Linked DNA regions of Homo sapiens. The protein of the gene in region 2 interacts with the protein of the main gene of each other region in a pairwise test. Each region holds a gene or a part of one and is shown on either strand. Other genes may lie near its edges.

Evidence for each region.
Region 1: the proteins of ZNF207 (region 2) and POLR1B interact in a two-hybrid assay, tested with the Homo sapiens proteins (one large-scale study listed by BioGRID and IntAct).

The regions. Positions count from the first base shown.
Region 1 is NC_000002.12:112,552,144-112,555,964, forward strand, and holds part of POLR1B (DNA-directed RNA polymerase I subunit RPA2), read left to right. Parts: intron 1-501; coding exon 502-673; intron 674-1,395; exon of another isoform or gene 1,396-1,547; intron 1,548-2,380; exon of another isoform or gene 2,381-2,436; intron 2,437-3,821. UniProt on the Homo sapiens protein: Catalytic core component of RNA polymerase I (Pol I), a DNA-dependent RNA polymerase which synthesizes ribosomal RNA precursors using the four ribonucleoside triphosphates as substrates.
Region 2 is NC_000017.11:32,360,119-32,363,939, reverse strand, and holds part of ZNF207 (BUB3-interacting and GLEBS motif-containing protein ZNF207), read right to left. Parts: intron 3,343-3,821; coding exon 3,175-3,342; intron 3,049-3,174; coding exon 2,973-3,048; intron 2,473-2,972; coding exon 2,425-2,472; intron 1,027-2,424; coding exon 956-1,026; intron 1-955. UniProt on the Homo sapiens protein: Kinetochore- and microtubule-binding protein that plays a key role in spindle assembly. ZNF207/BuGZ is mainly composed of disordered low-complexity regions and undergoes phase transition or coacervation to form temperature-dependent liquid droplets.

The DNA.
Region 1 (3,821 bases), on a different chromosome or scaffold from region 2:
CCTTTGTTTTTGCGGCCCTCCTCACTTGTATTTTTTTAGTAGTCGTGTTTTATTTTATAGTACTTTTTAACTTTTATTTTGAAATAATTTCAGACTTCCAGAATAATGTCCAAATAGTACATTGGATTCTAATTGTGAACATTTCATTCATTTACATTTACTTTTTTACTTTCTGTGTACACAGATGTACATTTTTCTTTCTGTACAATCCCTGAAAGTTGCAGGGATTGTATCACTTTATTTCTCCAAAGCAAGGACTTTGTCTTATATAACCACTGTATAATTACTAAAGAAGCCAGCTCCATACTGGTGCTGTCCAGTGCATAGCCACCAGTCACATGATAAGCACTTCAAATGTGGCCAGTGTAGCTCAAAAACTGAATGCTTAATTTTATTTAATTAAAGTTAAGTAAGCATGAGTTGGGGATCTTGGTTAATAGAATATTAAGTAGTATTACCAACTGAATTGTTTTAAGCTTTTTTTTTTTTCTGTTTTCACAGCCAGTGCATCTGTATCCACTTGAAATCCAATACTGAAAAGTTTTATATGCTTTGTCTCATGACGCGAAAGCTCTTTGCTTTAGCCAAAGGAGAGTGCATGGAGGACAATCCTGATAGTTTGGTGAACCAGGAAGTCCTCACACCGGGTCAGCTCTTCCTTATGTTCCTGAAGGTAAATGCATGCTATGTCCACCCTTGGCCAGTGGTACCACTTGTGGAATGGCGTGACTTTGTCCAGCAGCACTGTTTTCTGCATGTTTATAGTTTCTAGTTTTGGCATTTTGTGTGGTCTCTTTTTTGTTTGTTCATTTAGCAGTAAGGGGATCAGAAATCCTGGCTTACACCAGGTTTGGAAATTTGCTTAATATTTTTATGTAAAGATCACATCAAATCTTGGTCACAGTGTTAATGATAAAAAGCAAATGGCCTGTATTTATACATATGGTTGATCCTCATTATTTGTAGATTCTGTATTTGTGAATTCACTCACTGGCTAAAATTTATTTGTAACCCTAATGTCAGTGCTCAGTGCTTTCATGATTATTCACATACATGAGCAGAGCAGTGAAGAATTTGGGTCTCCTGAGGCAAATGTTACAGCTGAGGCGGGGCAGGGCGATGCTCTGCTTTCCGGTTTCAGCTCATACTATAAAGAGGGTCCTTTTTGAGGTGCATTTGGTGCTATGTTTTTCACATTGTCGTGCTTCTTATTGGTGACTTTTTTGTTTTTTTTTGAGACAGGGTCTCAGCCTCAACCTCCCAGGCTCAAGCAATCCTCCCACCTCAGCCTCCTGAGCAGCTGGGACTATAGACATTCACCACCACACCCGGCTAATTTTTAATTTTTTTTGTAGAAACAGGGTCCCACTATGTTGTACAGGCTGGTCTCAAACTCCTGGGCTCATGTGATCCTCCTGTTTCAGCCTCCCAAAGTGATAGGATTGGAGACATGAGCCACTGAGCCTGGCCAGTTTTTGCTGTTTATAATGGTCCCCAAGCATAGCACTGAAGCGCTGTCTAGTGTTCAGTGTTAATGAATTAACAAGGTATGTTAAATAAGGTGCCTTTCAACAAAAGCTGACATTAAACAAGATTGTATATTGATCCGTTGACCAGAATGTTATGACCAGAGACTTGCAGGAACCCAGCCCTGTATTTTTCCCCAGGAGTAGTGGTTTTATATGTGTTAATTCAGTGTTCATTAGAACATAGCTACTGTGAGTAGTGAAATTTGACTGTAGATGTATATAGAGAGAAAGTTGGCATGGCACAAAAATGATTTCATAAGAATATTGATTCAGTGGCATTTTATATTTTGCATCTTATCCTCAAAAAGATGTAATCTAAGAGTTAATATATTTTTAGTAGAGGTGGGGTTTCACCATTTCAGCCAGGCTGGTCTCGAACTCCTGACCTCAGGTGATCCACCTGCCTCAGCCTCCCAAAGTGCTGGGATTACAGGTGTGAGCCACTGTGCCTGGCTTCTAATTTATTTTATTTTATTTTGAGACAGAGTCTTGCTCTGTCTCCCAGGCTGGAGTGCAGTGCTACGATCTCAGCTCACTGCAACCTCCACCTCCCGGGTTCAAACAATTCTCCTGCCTCAGCCTCCCGGGTATCTAGGATTACAGGCGCGTGCCACCATGCCCGGCGAATTTTTTTATTTTTAGTAGAGACGGGATTTCACCATGTTGGCCAGGCTGGTCTCGAACTCCTGACCTCAAGTGAGCCACCCACCTTGGCCTCCCAAAGTGCTAGGATTACAGGCGTGAGCTACCACACCCGGCCTTCTAATTTCTTATCTAGGTAGTAATTCTTATTTACATTCTTCCCGAAAGGTAATAATCTTTGTTTCTGTTTGCTCTGTCCATAAAATTAGATTGAAAAATTTCAGCAGCCTACAATTTTCCTGACAAAAATTGAAAGCAGGCAGCGTAAGTTTTCTCTTATTAATTTAATGTTATTAAATTAACCTTTCAAGTAAAGGTTAATTTACATTTCCCATCTACTTAAAGTGAAGCATGGTGGGCTCATTGTATTCCACACTTATAAATGTGTCTTTATTCCACATCAATTCCTAATTAGGAAAAAAAAGAAAAGAAAAAGAAATGAGACCAGGAGTACAGTGGCTCATGCCTGTAATCCCAGCACTTTGGGAGGCTGAGGCAGAAGGGTAACTTGAGCCCAAGGAGTTTGAGACCAGCCTGGACAGCACAGAGAGATCGCTACAGAAATAATAAAAACTATTAGCAGTGGCTGGGTGTGGTGGCTCACGCCTATAATCCCAGCACTTTGAGATGCCAAGGTGGGTGGATCTTCTGATCTCAGGAGTTCAAGACTAGCCTGGGCAACATTGCAAAACCCTGTCTCTACAAAAAATATAAAAATTAGCTGGGCATGCTGGCATGCTGCAGCAATTCCAGCTACTCAGGAGGCTGAGGTAGGAGAGTTGCATGAGCCTGGGAGACGGAGGTTACAGTGAGTTGAGATCACGCCACTGCACTCCAGCCTGGGCGACAGAGCAAGACCCTGTCTCCAAAAAAAACCTGTTAGCTGGGCATGGTGGTACATGACTGTGGTCCCAGCCACTTGGGAGGCTGAGGTGGGATCCCTGAGCCCAGGAGGTCAAGGCTGCAATAAGGGGTGATTTTGCCACTGCACTCTAGCCTGGGCAAAAGAGCAAGACCTTATCTCAAAAAGAAAAAAGAAAAAAACACCTGGTGCGGTGGCTCACACCTGTAATCCCAGCACTTTGGGAGGCCGGGGTGGGAGGATCACTTGAGCCCAGGAGTTTGAGATCAATCTGGGCAAACAGCCCAGAGACAAAACTTCGTCTCTACAAATAATTTTAAAAAAATTTAGCCAGGCCTGGTGGGCCACACCTGTGGTCCCAGCTACTCAGCAGGCTGAGGTAAGAGGATTGCCTGAGCCCAGGCGGCGGAGGATGCAGTGTGCTGTGATCACGCCAGTGCACTCCAGCCTAAGTGACAGAGCAAGACCCTGTCTCAACAGAAAAAAGAAATGAGTCTTCTGTAGCAAGGCGTTACTAAGGTGACCTGTGTCAGCAACAAGAGAAACCAAGGGAAAATTGGGGCTTTTTCAGAGAATTCATTGCCGAGTATCTGATTTCCTTACCAGCTACGTTAAAGCTTTTAAACCTTTGAGTTTGGAGCATAAAAACAATCTTCAGAAGATACATAACCATGACATAAGATGAATTATAGACTGTTAAAAATTCACATTGTATTTACATTGAAATAAGCAATATAAAATTGAAAAATAGCAACCATATTTTCTGTATTATTGTAGATTAACCATAA
Region 2 (3,821 bases):
GCAAAGTCAAAAAAAGCATGGGTTAATAAATATCATTGAGCCACTGAATCTACCACTTTTTTGTTGACTGAGACAATGAATGCCTACACCGTTTAATACAGTTTGTTGGGGCTGGGCACAGTGGCTCACGCCTGTAATCCCAGCACTTCGGGAGGCCAAGGCAGGCGGATAACCTGAGGTCAGGAGTTTGAGACCAGCTGGCCGACATGGCGAAACCCCATCTCTACTAAAAATACAAAAATGAGCCAGGCGTGGTAGTGGGCGCCTGTACTCCCAGCTACTCGGGAGGCTGAGGCAGGAGAATCACTTGAACCCCGGAAGCAGAGGTTGCAGTGAGCCGAGATCATGCTCCAGCCTGGGTGACAGAGCGAGATTCCATCTCAAAAAAAAAAAAAAAAAAAAAAAAAAAAGTTTGTTGGATTTCTCTATTACTTGTCTAAAACATTCCTAACAAATACAAGCGCTCTAAGTATGTGAGATTCAGCACATAGGCCGTGACTCACTTTGGCTGCTTTGAAACCTATCATCTATTTCAAACTTCAAGAAAGGGCCAGCCAGGCGTGGTGGCTCACACCTGTAATCCCAGCACTTTGGGAGGCCAAGGTGGGTGGATCACCTGAGGTCAGAAGTTCAAGACCAACCTGGTCAACATGGTAAAACCCCGTCTCTACTAAATACACAAAAATTAGCCAGGTGTGGTAGCAGGCGCCTGTAATCCCAGCTACTCAGGAGGCTGAGGCAGAAGAATCGCCTGAACCTGTGAGGCAGAGGTTGCAGTGAGCCGAGATATCTACCAAAATACATTTTTTAAAAAAGGGTCCATATAACACTTCTCACAGGAACTTGCAACTTTCAAAAATTTTTAAATTTCATTATACTAATGCCCACAGACGTCTAAAAAAACTTAGAAATAAAGCCTGTACATCATATTAAAATGAAATTATCTAACATATACCTGGTGGCATTCCAGGCATCAGAGGTGGTATTCCTGGTCCAGGTGGCATCATTCCACCCATTGGCATCATTCTATTAGAAAGCAAATTTCAAGAAACAGTAAGTTAATGAACAGCATAAACCATTAAAAAATATTCTGGCTAAAGCCTGAAACAACACTAGATAGAAGACTTGAATCTGACCTCTAATACTGAAATGAATCAAAGCTGAAAGAACACACAACACACTGTAACAATCCTATCAAAATAAATTGTCTAAAACCCAGCAAACTCTTTGGTTTACCAATAAAAAAAAAATGTTGACAAAACATTTAAAGTCATTTGAGAACAAATATACTCTCAATATGTACAAGAGGCCTCATCTAAAATATGTGTAATGGGAAAGCAAATTCACCACTTTTTCCACTTGGAAAATATCCACAGAGTATTAAAGAAAAAGAAGAAATCTCTATTTCAGAGTTGTGTTGGATTTTGAAAAGAAAAAGATTGAATGAATGTACCCTGTGAAATGAGATTTTTTATTTGGCTAGGTGCAGCAGCTCATGCCTATAATCCCAGAAGTTTTGAGAGGCCAAGGCTCAAGGACTGCTTGAACTCAGGAGTTCAAACCAGGCTGGGCAAAAAGTGAGACCATAACTTTTTAAAAAAGCAAAAATTTTAAACATTAGCTGGGTGCAGTAGTGTGCGCCTGTAGTCCCAGATACTCAGAGGGCTGAGGTGGGAGGATCACTTGAGCCCAGGAGGTCAAGGCTGCAGTAAGCTGTGACTGCGCCACTGCACTGTAGTCTGGGCGACAGAGTAAGAGACCCTGTGTCAAATACATACATATACACACACACACACACACACACACACTTTTTTTTTTTAGAGAAAGGAAATACTACCACCAAAATTAAAGACACTCAAAAGTAAAACCAGATGGCCTATTTACAATAACTACCTACCACTAAACCATGACTTAAAAACACAACCCACTTATTTTTTCCCCTAAAAGAGCTCACCTTCAAATATCAGTGTCCAATTCACTTAAAAAATGATAAATTGGTCAATTTTCTTTCAAATTTTTTAAATTTTTGTGGGTAAATTCAGTTCTTGATTTAAAATTTTTATCAGAAGATTAACTTCTATTAATAGATTAGAAAATTCCATTACATCCTATAATAATAAAGCATGTAATTTCATAGAATATAGTCTTTCTTAAATACTAACCCTTATTAACAGGTCCCATTACTTTCAATAGTTTGGAGAAAATCACTGCACATTTGAAGTATGTTTATATGGGTCTATTACCGTTTCCTAAAAGATGTTTTATTTTCCTTCTTTAAGAGACCTGTGTTAATTAGCTTGCAAGTTTTAGTGAGGAAGGTTAGAAAATTTCTGAAGTCAACTGAATAGATACCATTAAACACACACATAAAAAAATGACAGTATGATTATACCTCCTGAATTACATTATGAATGAGATGCTTACATGTTTTCACCGCAAAATGACTGGGTGTATTTTCTCTGATGATGCAATCTGTGAAAATGTATGACAAAATCAAAATCTAACTGTGATTTTCAAAATACAGTGGGAAAGTGTATTGTATACCTCTCACATCCAACAATATTTAAGTAAAAGTGATGGGCACAAGCACCTCATATTCATTTTAGTTTTGATGCTTTGACAAATAAATCATTTACAGAGTTTCTCTGCTTCTTGTCACAACTACAAAGTGTCACAGATAATTCTGAATCTCAGAAACGCAAATCTATAAATAACCAACTACTTTAATCACAGTAAATGCAATTGAAGTAGATGGTTGCTTACATATACCCTAAAACCCAAAAATCTATTACTCAGAGGCAAATTTATATTCCTTAAATTTACTGGTTGATCCCTTTATTAGACAAGATATATAGAGCCCATACCTTCTAGAAGCAAAAAATGGAAAGTAACATTTCATTCATATAACATCCAAATTGAAAAAGATCATTACTAGGCACAAGCCTACAGGGCAATTAAAAGAATTTTCTTACCCAGGTGGCATGCCTGGCATAACTGGTGGCATTCCTGGCATCAGAGGAGGAACACCTGGCATTAATGGAGGTATGCCTACAAGCAAGAATTTCAATCAAAATAATAACAAATATTAAAGAGTTAGAGGGAAGAAAGTAATACTTCGATACAATATCAATAATGTCCTAAAAATGTTAGATTTTAAGCAATCCTATGTGCTACCTGGAGGCATTCCTGGTGCTCCTGGTACTGGTGGCAGTCCTGGCTGTGCCATTGGAGGAATATAACCTTGCTGAGGTTGAACAGGCTGTGGCTGAAATGAAGTTGAGGCTGCAGAGTCGTCATCATCATATTCATCAGAATCATCTTGTTGCTTCTTTTTTTGACTTTCTGTTAAAAAAAAAAAATTATTTCCATAGAGTAAAAACTAAGAAAGTTTATTTACAACATTCAATATTTAAAAATACATATATGGGTAAAATTACTTCATGAGATTTTTCTTCCCCAAAAATTCAATTAATACTGCTCTATGTTCTTCAAATGTGTTTTCGCCCTATATTAAACAAGATTAACGTTCTTTCCCTGTCCTATGAAAGGTAAAATGATTATCCTAAATCAGTATTTTTTCTTTTAAATTTTTAGTAAAGTCTTGCTCTGCGATGCAGGCTGTACAGCAGTGGCACGACTGCAGCTCACTGCACTCTCAAACTCCTGGGCTGAAGCGATCCTCCCGCCACAGTCTCCCAAGTAGCTGGGACTGCAGACACATGCCACCACACTGGGCTTTTTTTTTTTTTTTTTGGGGGGGGGGTAAAGGTGAGGTCTTGAACTTTTGGCCTCAAGTGATCCTACGGCCTCAGCTACCTAAA